Homo sapiens: one gene and its partners. The protein of the gene in region 3 interacts with the protein of the main gene of each other region in a pairwise test. Each region holds a gene or a part of one and is shown on either strand. Other genes may lie near its edges.

Region 1 (4,324 bases), on a different chromosome or scaffold from region 3:
TCTTGCTTGGAATCTTGAGTACCTGATCTTGAATTTCTATGGCACTCCCTGAGCGCGGGACTGGCTGGTAGCCATGTGATATTGATTTGTTTTCACCATAGCAACAGCAAATTGAAACAACTAGCAGAGAGAAGGCAGGCTGTTAACCAGTAAAGCTACCTAACCAGTATATTTCACAAGCATATTTTTCTCCTTCCCTCTTGTTTTTTCTCTTATTTACTCCACTTTCACAAATTTAACACAAAAGTCAAAGGAAAAACAGCATTAAATGTTTTGGGCACTACAAGGCCTGTGGCCAGAATAGTGTGCTTTGCAGAGCTTCTAGTATATTAGATTAGATCGATGGAAAAAATGCAAACAACAACGCTTTGATTTCCTTGGAAATTTCATTTGTTGAACTAAGAAAAAGTATCCCTAAAAAATTTACATGAGCACAAAGTAGAGTGAAGGGTTTTGTGTATATGACTATGTATCTTAATACTCTAAGGTGTTTGCCAACAGTTTCTTAATACCGAGGTTTTATCCCTTTGTACTTTAAATAGCTCAATGTGCCAAGAGACAAACAACTTTTTTTTTTTTTTTTTTTTTTTTGGTAAAAGGTCAAGGTCTCAAAATGCTAAATGATGAGGGAAAGTGTAGCAAGTATGATTCAATTCTATTAAAAGACAGAAAAATCAAGGTAGGCACTTGCTCAAAACTACGTGAGTAGTCAGAGAGGAGACACAAATTAGCTTTGGGAACTCCCGAGAACTCCAATGTGCTCCAGTCAAAATCTTTTTTAAAAGGTTCCTTTGTAAACATTACCCTTCCCCCGATCTCTGTGACCAAGGTTGCCACCTGTGACATGGATTTGCAGCCTGCAGTATTGTACTTCCCCTGCTTGGGGCCATCTGTGCTAGGACATGATGATTTTTCTATGAAAGCAGCTGTTCTCACCATCACAACCAGCCTTGAACTTGGTGGCACAACCTGGATCCTAAATAGTGGCTCTGGAGCAACTGGGAATAGGGCCCCGGGGACCATCCACCCAGGTGGCAGCGCTGGGCTGCACCAAGGGGGAGTCAGGCCAGAAAAAAAGCTTTGCCCTGCTCCCTGCTGCTTTTTGCCAGCCCAGCCAGAAGCCCTGCAGAAAACCTGTGCTGACCGGCCCGACATGTGGCAGGTACAAGAAGATGCCCTATTTATGAGGGGACAGGTTTACAATTTACAAAAGACAGGCGAAAATATAAAGACATAACTTAAGTCCTGCCAGTGGGGAGTTAGAATGTTCCTGGCCAGGACATAAAGAAATATTCCTCTCCACAAGCTCGAATAAAGGAACACACAGCAGAAATAGTTGGGGGATGACGTCAGAAGTTCTGGGCTAGTGTCCTGCACTTCTCCTTGAAAGTAAAAACAGTGGGTCTAGAAGAATCTACGTGGCATTGCCCTTATTTAAATGAGTAGTTCTACTGCTCCTTGCAAAACAAGTAGGATAGCTGAAGAAACTTCCTCTTATTTAAAGATTATAAGAATGTTCCCCCTGCCTTTTTTAAAAACCTTATTGTCCCCAAAACACACACATTACCCAATTAACAAATAGCTTTCCACTTAACCTTTGTCTTTTAAAGGGACAGTAATGTTTCTTGTAGAACATTCAAGGTGGTGGTGGTTAGGCAAGTCAGATTTTTTTCTTCGCTTCAGTGCTTGCTAACTATTCTAAAAATGTTACACATTTATTGTAAACACATGCTTCCGAGGCCTAACAAAAAAGCACAGTTTCCTCATGCCTGGCAGAAATTTAAAACGGAAAAGGGCAGAAAGAATTCTTTAGCAAATATATCCTTTCCTTCTCCTGGGCCAAGTGTGTTAAAAATAAATCTTCTCCATCATTTCTCACTGCTGCTTCTCAGCGAGAAAGTTGATATGGTTCGGCATAGTGAAAACACAGCTTTAAAAGCTAGCCTGCCCTCATTAAATTATTCTGCTGGCTGTGTGTTCTCATTAAAAATGCATAAAGATCAGATAATTGCAGTAAGCATTATTAACCCAGCTTTACTTTTGAATATAATGGTTCCACTTTTAAGCTGGAAACAAAGGCTCAGACATGCCAGGAAAAGAAATGTAAACATTGAACTACAGTATCGAAAACTTGCCAGAAAGCTACCTCTTGCTAGGTTGTTTAAAATGTGCTTTTGAAACTCAATTAAAGCTGTAGCATTGTAGAGCTAGGTAGGTCCCTAATTTTTAATAAATAGACACATACGTTTGGCCAAACATTCAACCGATGATTATTTACCATGAATTTTTTTTTAATCCTTAATTGCAAGTCTGTTTTCAAATAATAGGATCCATGTAAACTTTATCTATTTGGGAACTAGCTATGGCAATATAACAATTTTTCACAGCAAGAAAATAAGATTGCTCCAAAGAATTCAAATGGTTTTTAAAAAATAATATAATAAATGAATCGATTCTTTGCATAAAAACTCGATTTCTTGCCTCACCCCAAACAGGCGGCATAGATTCAAGCTTTGCCATTTCTTTTTCTCAAATCAAAATGTTACGTAAAACTCCAGGGTCCCCCGCAAGTATTACAATTGAATTAGTGGAATCCAGTTTCCCTGGCTCCCGTAAGCAGCACACATGGAATGCAGCATACTGCAGCAAACTCTTTAAACATTCAAAAAAGGGGGGCGATTCTCCTACCTTGTTTAGCTCTGCCTGTCCTTCCCATTTACAGTAACCCCAGGAACATCTGGCAGAACCAAGTGGCCGAGGCTTCTCCACCGCATCATGAGAAAGAAACTTCCATGTAAATAGTTCTCATTCCCTGTTTATTGTACTCTGAAAGCCGTCTGCCGTATCTGGAAAATTTTACCTTCAGATGATGAAGCAAAGACAGTCTAAACTCTGTTGCTGTAAGCTGCAGCCCTTCCTTCCGACAAATCCCTCCCAGCCGGGGCCAGCCAATCCCCAGCCAGCTCGTCAGCCCTACTCGTCTGAAACTGGCCCTAATAGGATGACTGACACAGTAACACAGCACTTGCAGTGTGTAAAAACAGTGCATCCATACTGATGAAAGAGGAATTTCCCTCTCAGAAGAAAGCAATCATAGCACCAAGACAAAGTGGCACATAATTGGCAGAGCAGAGAGAGGGGTAGCTCAAGAAAACACCCTTGAAGACAGCCAGCTCGAAGCCAGGAGCTTCACCGTGAACACTTGGGAAAATGTGAAACTCCGCAGATTCCAAAGAAATCCAGGTTGTACATGAAACTGAAGTCCTTGGACTATCTGACAAAGCATATGTATATGTTTTTTAAAGGAAAAATAATTCAACGTCTGCCATGGCAGTTAATACCTTACAAAACATTTACATATTTCCATTATTGAGGAAGAATGTGCTAGCCCAAGTGCGTATTCAAAATCAAAACATGCTTATAGCTCTGGCACACACAGGTTTCCTGTATAACATCTGTTATTGCAGTGGTTAATTACTGCGGCCCATTTATCTTTCGTCTAAGTTTTCAGACCACTTGGGACTTCGATTAGGGAATGCTGGACAATAAAATTGATATCTATACACTACCCTTTTCTACTCTTGGCAGGCACCCACGAGAGGATTAGGTGTGCTTTAACCATCTTAGATGCCATTTGATAAATACTGTGCATTGGCTCACATTATCGTTAATGAAGCAATGATTATAGGAAGATGTTTACTGTTGAATACAAGGGGTACATGATCCAAGGGCCCCCATGAGGTGCCATTCCACAAAAGATGTTCTAGGAGGTGCTGGAGTTTCCTGAGATAAAGCAGAAGAAGAGAAAGTTTAGGAAGGGTTATTTATTTATTTATTTATTTATTTATTTCCCAGTCTACAGCATTTCTGTATGCCTTGAAAACAAAAACTCAAAAACATATGGCATTGAGCAAACACAACAAGCATACATTTTCCTCCCCTAAATACCACATTTTGAGAAAAAAAAAGTATGATGATTACATGATGAGACCAAGACAGAACAAAGCCTTTATTCATCTGAAAGGTTGAACCCAATGCACGATTTTTATAAGCAACTGTTCAGCGCATCTGTAATGAAGCAACAGAATGCAATGGAATGCTTTCTTTTTATTTTGCCATTGCATCTTAAAAACATAATATTTCATATAATTTCTAGGCTACTTTCTTCAATAACTACCATGCTTTATTCCCCTCAGTTTTTATACTTACATTCTTTGTCTTCCCCATGTAATTCTATCACATATCCTAACTTGCAGGCTTTCATCTACTGTAATACTTCTGGAAATTTAAATTAGTTCTGTGGTCAAACAGATACAAACTACTT
Region 2 (3,652 bases), on a different chromosome or scaffold from region 3:
AAAATGAGATGAGGCTGCATTCATAGGCTTCAGAGAATAGTAAATTGCATAGAAATTCATCAATTTAAGTTACATGGTACCATGACAACTTGTATATTAGCAGCTTGACAGACAGCTTCGAATTTTCACAGACTACTACATGAACTGTTATGGCAACGGAAACTTTTACAAATAGTAGCATGTTAAAAGACCTGTCCACCTAACAGTACACTACCCACCGCTCCCATCAGAGACATGACACGGTTTGTTTACATGATCCAAATGACCATCTCAATGGTGATTCGCTGTTATCACTCACATCAGCTAACACTACTCTGTGTATTTATATGTGTGTATACATATTTATGAAATGAGAATACCTGGACAGTCTGATTGGTTAACAGCGTATTGGTACAGTTTTGTCTTCTATTACATGTCATTCATTTCAGCCCTCAATTTTAGAACTCTAAATAAATAAAATGTAATTTACAAAGATAAATTGTTATTTACAAATGCAAAAATTCATCCTGAGGATTTTGGTATCTAGGAGAACTGTTTCACAGAAAAAAGCAAGTATCAATCTGTGAAATAAAAATGCACCTTGAGTTAAACTAAATAATTCATAATTACAGGTTAATTTACCCAAGTTCCAGCCAAGAAAAGCATGAAGATATTTAAGAAATCTTAAATTGATTTGCATGCAAGAAATTAATCACATACAACTTTTCAAATCCCAATGTTATTCCCCCTTAAACTTCTTGTTTAATGTTTTAGTCTGACTGTATTTGTAAAGTAGGTGACAGAGAAAAAAATACCTGAGGAAAGCTCAGTAACGTGCTGAGGGTTCTTTTCCTCACTGGAAAGCAGCGGGGCTTCAGGCCACCATGAGAAACAGCCAGTGGGCCTTTGACTTTACCCAAGTTAAGCTCCCCTAATAGGAGTAGTTAGCTAAACAAGTTCAACGCTTTCCAAAGGAAAAAGGTCAAGTTAAAACAAAAATCTAAATAAAGGTAAAATATCAACAGTTTCTCTGCTTTACAATGTGACCATAAAATTACTTATTTACAGAAATTAAAAGAAATGGTTCAACAAAGAATCAAACTGGTTTCTCCAGGTATATACCATGACAATGTATCTTTTTACTCGATGCTGTGAGCAGACAGTGATTATTTTGGAGAAGGAAAAATAAGGTGTGGAATTAGTAATGCAGATGCTGAAAGGCAAGTGGCAAGAGAAGAATGCCTCAAACAAAGGCTACTTTGTTCCCATCTCTACTGCACCTACACCCACACCCGCCCCGGCCCCCAAGCTAAAAGACCAGAATAACCAAAGCCATTTTAACAGTAGTGTGCAAAACTGTCAGCTGACAAACAACATAAAAACAAGTCACACTATGTTATCTGTGGTCACGTTCTTCAGGGTTAGTCCAGTAACTCAAGACTTTACATTCTTTTGTCTTTATTTGTTTATTTTAATTAAACATATAAAGGTTAATAAACAGACAAAGTCCAGAGTTAGTAGGTTGGTATTATAACATTTATTAAAATAATGCTGTGGGTTAATAGAAACAGCAAAGAACCAAAGAATTAAAATGCAAGCTATGTAAAATCCCAACTAAAACCCAAAAGTGTCTAATGTATTCATTCATTAGCTAACTAAAAGCCCAAAAAAGACAAGACACCCAATATAATAAAGTACTGCAAAACAATTGGCAATTTTCAGTTATCAAAATTGTGGATTTTGCATTTTGTATCCTTTTCTCAATCAAGAAAAAAATTCTTTTTGAATGTTATATAACATACATATAAAACAAGATAGAAAAATACATTATAAACTTGTAACAATGGCTGTAAATACATTATCTTACATGTTTCTCATAGGCAATAGGTTGGTTATGGTACATACATAGCATGAAACTAAGATAATAAAGAATAGACAAAAATACATGTCAGCTGTACGATAACATACAAGCGACACTCCCATCTACCCACGCTAAAAAATTACATAATACTGTCAGAAAAAAAGTCTTAAAAACTACATATTTTAATAAGAAATAAATTCAATAAAGAATGATAATACTGAGAACCAAGGCATTCAGAGATTTCAAAAGTCATGCTTTTTTCAGTTGATCCAAAATTTTGTCAACCAAGTTTTCAAAAGTTTGTTCAGAGCCAACATTCCCTATAAATGTCACACATTTATTATTTCATACATTTACTTTCTTCCCCATAAAAGACCTTTGATAAACATCTAAAATGTCCAGGTATAACATAGTTGAGATGAAACTGGATCAAATACTGGTATTGTTTTTAACAACTATCACCTCAAGTGTTTGAGTGTCGCAAATTTATTCAACCAACCAAACAATATAAAAATCAAAATGGCACAGCATATATTGTAAATAAATCAAAACTGTATGTGTAACAGAAAGACAAAGCAGTGGCATATTAAACCAAAGCTAGCTGGATACAAAACAATGAATGTCTATTGCATAGTAAATAAACTGACAACGGTTTCCAAGTGAGACAAGATGGTGGGGGAGGTCACCAAGAAGGTAATGACTCAGCTTCCTGCTGACCTCTGACTGTGATGCTGGGAAGGTGTGGAAGAGGGGACGAGTTGATAAGCTGGGCGGGGGGGGGGGTCCACTGTCACTTGAGATTTGCCACGTCTGGTACTGAGCAGTTAATGATTATTCACTCAAGTGTTTAGATGTAGGCTTTGCACACAAATTGCTTCAACTACATAACTAACTGTTTCAACTTCTTGAGAAATTAGAAGCTTAAGCTGAAATGTGGTTGAGTATTTATATGCACTATGATGCTAGTTTTTCACATTCTTTTAAAGTTAAGGGGTGGGGGAGGCAGAGGTTATTGAAACAGTAAAAGGATACACTACACCAGTTATCTGGTATGATATAAAGACATGTGATTAAATTTGGGTGATTTAAAACATTGTTTTCTAGAATGAAAATCACAAAGATTCACTTTTGTGAAAACATTTGCTAGGTATCCTATTATATTCAATTAATTAAAAACAAAAAACAAAATCAAATGAATGCATCCCCCTTCTCCAAATAAAACAAAGCTCTAATTTTGTCTGTAAACTGAAGTTTAGATGACACATAATTTTTATCTCAGAATCCTTTGGGTTAACATTGAAGATTGGAATAACCAAAAGTATTAAACTATTCTTTTAAAGAATGATGTTTTAAAACTTACTAGTCAGGCATTAGAAAAGTTATCAAATCTTTTCACAGTATCAGATTTGGCAAATTTGCATCAAGGTAACGTGGCAAAAATCCTATAATTCAAACTATCAACTCATTTGTCTCCCTCATATCTTCTTTCACATACTGGGCGACTGAGTAACATGCATTAACTTGTATTCTGAGGGAGGAGCTGATCTTTATGAGACACTTGACTGAATGACCATGAAGGAAAATAAGGCACTTTCTTTTCTTTAGACTTATTCCAATACTTAAAAAATAAAAAAGAAAGACAAAAAGGCTCTTTTGGTCTTTTGTTTCTTGACAACCACCAGAAAAAATCATTTAATGAAATAAAGGGTTTCTTTGTTCTTTTTCTTTTTTTTTATAACACTTGAAAGTATAAAATGCTACATTTCCAAAAATATATATATTTTTTTCTGCACCAGCACCCTTGTATAGTAA
Region 3 (3,652 bases):
AAGAGAAAAATGTTAATCATTTAAATAGACAGGATTATCGCCCACCCTTACCACTTCCCTCCTCTCCCAAGTTTTAGAAAACGTAGCCTTAGCCCACACAAGTCAAGTCAGCCAGGAGTCCTTACATCTTAAGAACTCCCACTCAGATGAGAGGGCTGAGGCAGATAGAGGGGGACTTTTCCTTCTTTTGAGGAAGGAGATGGAAAAGAGAGAAAATAGTCTAACATATCCTATAAGCCAGGCATGGGGCAATATTATAAATACAAACACACACACACACACACACACATGCATGCACACACACACACCCACACTTAATCATCACAACTGTCTTGGAACGGGGAATTATCATCCTCATCTACAGACAAGGAAACTGAGGCTTAGAAAGGTGAAGCAGTTTGCCCCACTGGTAGGTGACCCAGTTGGGAGTAGAGGCCTCCATAGCCCTCCCAGTCCATGGTGACCTGCGGTCCTGTCCAGACTCACCCAGCATCCCCATGCCAAGCATGAACGCGTCCATGGTGTAAGGCAGTCCCCGGGCCCGGCCTCTTGTCCCAGGTGGGAACATGACTTCTTTCGGCTGAGCTTTCTTACATTCTACCTGTTAAACAGAAAGGCGAACAAATGAGATGCAAATGAATTCCACGTAAATGTCAAATGCAGAACCTGTCTGGTTATGAGCTAAGTTATTTTTAGCCTTGCTCCTTACCCACTGTAAAAATAGCCATGCCGAGTAAATGGCCTGCAAAATAAATACTTAAGAAAACACGCCACTTGTGCAAATCCTGCTTCGGAAAAACCTACAAGGATGAAACTGGGTTCTGGAGGGGTGGCAAGGACGTAAGCTGCAGATATACACACAGATTGAAGCTCAGGCTGACGCTCGTGCAGAAAGCATGACAGATAAGGAGGCAGACAATGGCTGTTGGATGTGTCTGTGAATAATAACAACAATAGCAATAATAATAATCCCTCAGGATTTTTCAGCCCTTTACACATTTACAAATGCCCCTGACATTCTCTCAGGCCAGTGACTCTTCATGCCAGGCCATCTGATTCAAACTCTTATTAAACAGACAGACCACTTAGCCTTAGCTCCAGTTCACAGATGAGAAAACAGAGCATCAGAAGTTTTGTGTTGGCTGGGCGTGGGGGATCATGTTTGTAATCCCAGCACTGTGGGAGGTGGAGGCAGGTGAATCAGCTTGAGCCCAGGCGTTTCAGATCAGCCTGGCAACATGGTGAAACCCCGTCTGTACTAAAAAAATACAAAAAACTAGGCAGGTGTGGTGGCACACACCTGTAGTCCCAGCTACCTGGGAGGCTGAGGTAGGGGGATCACCTGAGTCTGGGAGGTCAAGGCTGCAGTGAGCCATGATCACGCCACTGCACTCCAGCCTGGGTGACACAGCGAGACCCTGTCTTAAAAAAAAAAAAAAAAAAAAATTCTTGTGCAACATGCTGAAAGCCCTCCCCAACAGGTTCAGGCCTACAAACCAGATCTTTAGAATTTCTAGGTCAGCAATGCCACATTTCCACAAAACCTACACCACCACCACACTCCTGAGGGAAGTAATAAGATTAAACACTGATTCTGTTCATCTGGATTACTAGTTTCTCATTTGCAGCTACATTTTCAAGTGGTTGCTAATCTCCCCTTTCTGTTTCCCTTCTGACTCTCAAATTTCTTCATGCTAATCTGCTTGTATACCCAGAGGTCACTTATTTAATAACCTTAACTATGCGAACTATAAACCTCAGGGAATAAGTAAAACTGTGGCCCTCGGAAGCTCCTTCACTGTTTTACCAGAGCGCCTTAGGCCTGTGCTTATTAGCACTTATTTGCTTTTTGTTTACAGAGAAATTTAACAAGCATTGTTAGCCAGTCATCAATCCCACTGCTGATGAAGATGGGATGTTGCAGGGTAAGGCACGGATGCTTTTAACAGCCAAAAGAAACAGCATGGCCGCCTGATAGTGACGGAGAAAAGACAAGAAACAGGTATCTTATTTAAATGACGGAGAAAAGACAAGAAACAGGTATCTTATTTAAAGAGCAGTCTGGGCCATATGGTATAGGAACAAAAGCTCTACATAGTTCAACAGCTGCTGAGGTATCACTGTAACACAGAAAATTGCTATTGTTCACAGGTGTGCCTGAGATAGCAAGAAAAAGTTAAACTGTGTGCAATATACATTGTTTAAACAGAGACCTCTAGGCCGGACGTGGTGGCTCACACCTGTAATCCCAACACTTTGGGAGGCTAAGGCAGGCAGACTGCTTGAGTCCAGGAGTTCGAGACCAGCCTGGCTATCGTGGCAAAACCCTGTCTCTACTAAAAATACAAAAAAATTAGCCAGGTGTGGTGGCATGCTCCTGTAATCCCAGCTACTTGGGAGGCTAAGGCAGAAGAATCGCTTGAACCCGGGAGGTGGAGGGTGTAGTGAGCCGAGATCGCACCACTGTACTCCAGCCTGGGCGACAGAGCGAGACTCTATCTCAAAAAATAAAAAAAATAAATAAAACGAAAATAAAAAAGGAACCTCTATGGGTTATCCATTTTGGAGATACTCACATCCCAAATACTTCAATCAAAAAATATTTTAGTGCTCAAGGTTAGGGGGATGCTATAATTACCTAAGATATAAGTCACCTTTCTTCAAAGACACCGGACAACAGGTATTACTCTTGCTCTTTCAAGAATAACCACAAATGCCTTAAAAAGTGGACAAAATGGTTCAACATTCATGACTAATATGCTTAATACAGAGTTCTATAGATTAAAAGAGATGAGCATCCCAAAACAGACATGGGTAAAAGACAGGAGTAGACAATTCACAGACGGCTAATAAAGAACACATTCCCCAAGATGAAGCATATTTTTTGCCCACAGATTGACAGTGATGAAAGCATTGTTTGATGTAAGGGTTTCTGACGGTATAGTGTGGAGGGGTGGAAATTGGCACGTATTTTTCTGGAGGGCAACCAGACACTACATCAAAAGCCATAAATTTATACATACACCTAGTAATCTTACCTCTAGGAATTTGCCCTACCGGAATTAGAATTTTTTTTTTTAATAAAAGGAAATACCTAAAATATAGAAGAACAGGGAATTAGCTGAGTTTGGATTATCCACACTGATTGAATGCTATGCAGCTATGAAAAAGTGTGTTGATAATAATCATGCACTGGTACTGGGAAACCCCTCAGTCCCAGGCAAACCAGGATGATGGGTTTCTTTAACTGCAAGCGGGAAAACAGCAAATGTCACTGACTTTTTGAAAAATAAACAAGTGCATATATCATATAGGGAAAAATACTGAAAAGACATACTAAAGTTGTCTTAGAATCACTCTGTTTTTAAATTTTAATTGGGCATTTTGCTAGTTATTTTCTAAGCTTTCTGCTAAGCAACAGGGAGCAGGTTTTTGTAAGATAATGCAATAGACTGTCACTGATAGGGCTATTAGAATATTGTCATTGCAGGTAGGGGGGAAAGGTGATTGAAAACAACAAACTCATCCAAATTGGCTCTTTTAGGTTTCTCTCCTAAGCCCAGGGGTGAAAACTGGCTTCAGGACTCCAGAGGAGCAGGCTGAGAAATCTCATTTGCATGAACCTGCCCCAAGCCTAGGAAGATGGGCGTGT

Evidence for each region.
Region 1: the proteins of MSI2 (region 3) and MBNL2 interact in a two-hybrid assay, tested with the Homo sapiens proteins (one large-scale study listed by BioGRID).
Region 2: the proteins of MSI2 (region 3) and QKI interact in a two-hybrid assay, tested with the Homo sapiens proteins (one large-scale study listed by BioGRID).

The regions. Positions count from the first base shown.
Region 1 is NC_000013.11:97,220,896-97,225,219, reverse strand, and holds the start of MBNL2 (muscleblind-like protein 2), read right to left. Parts: upstream 2,888-4,324; 5' UTR 2,689-2,887; intron 1-2,688. UniProt on the Homo sapiens protein: Mediates pre-mRNA alternative splicing regulation. Acts either as activator or repressor of splicing on specific pre-mRNA targets. Inhibits cardiac troponin-T (TNNT2) pre-mRNA exon inclusion but induces insulin receptor (IR) pre-mRNA exon inclusion in muscle.
Region 2 is NC_000006.12:163,571,642-163,575,293, reverse strand, and holds part of QKI (KH domain-containing RNA-binding protein QKI), read right to left. Parts: 3' UTR 1-3,652. UniProt on the Homo sapiens protein: RNA reader protein, which recognizes and binds specific RNAs, thereby regulating RNA metabolic processes, such as pre-mRNA splicing, circular RNA (circRNA) formation, mRNA export, mRNA stability and/or translation.
Region 3 is NC_000017.11:57,612,919-57,616,570, reverse strand, and holds part of MSI2 (RNA-binding protein Musashi homolog 2), read right to left. Parts: intron 602-3,652; coding exon 487-601; intron 1-486.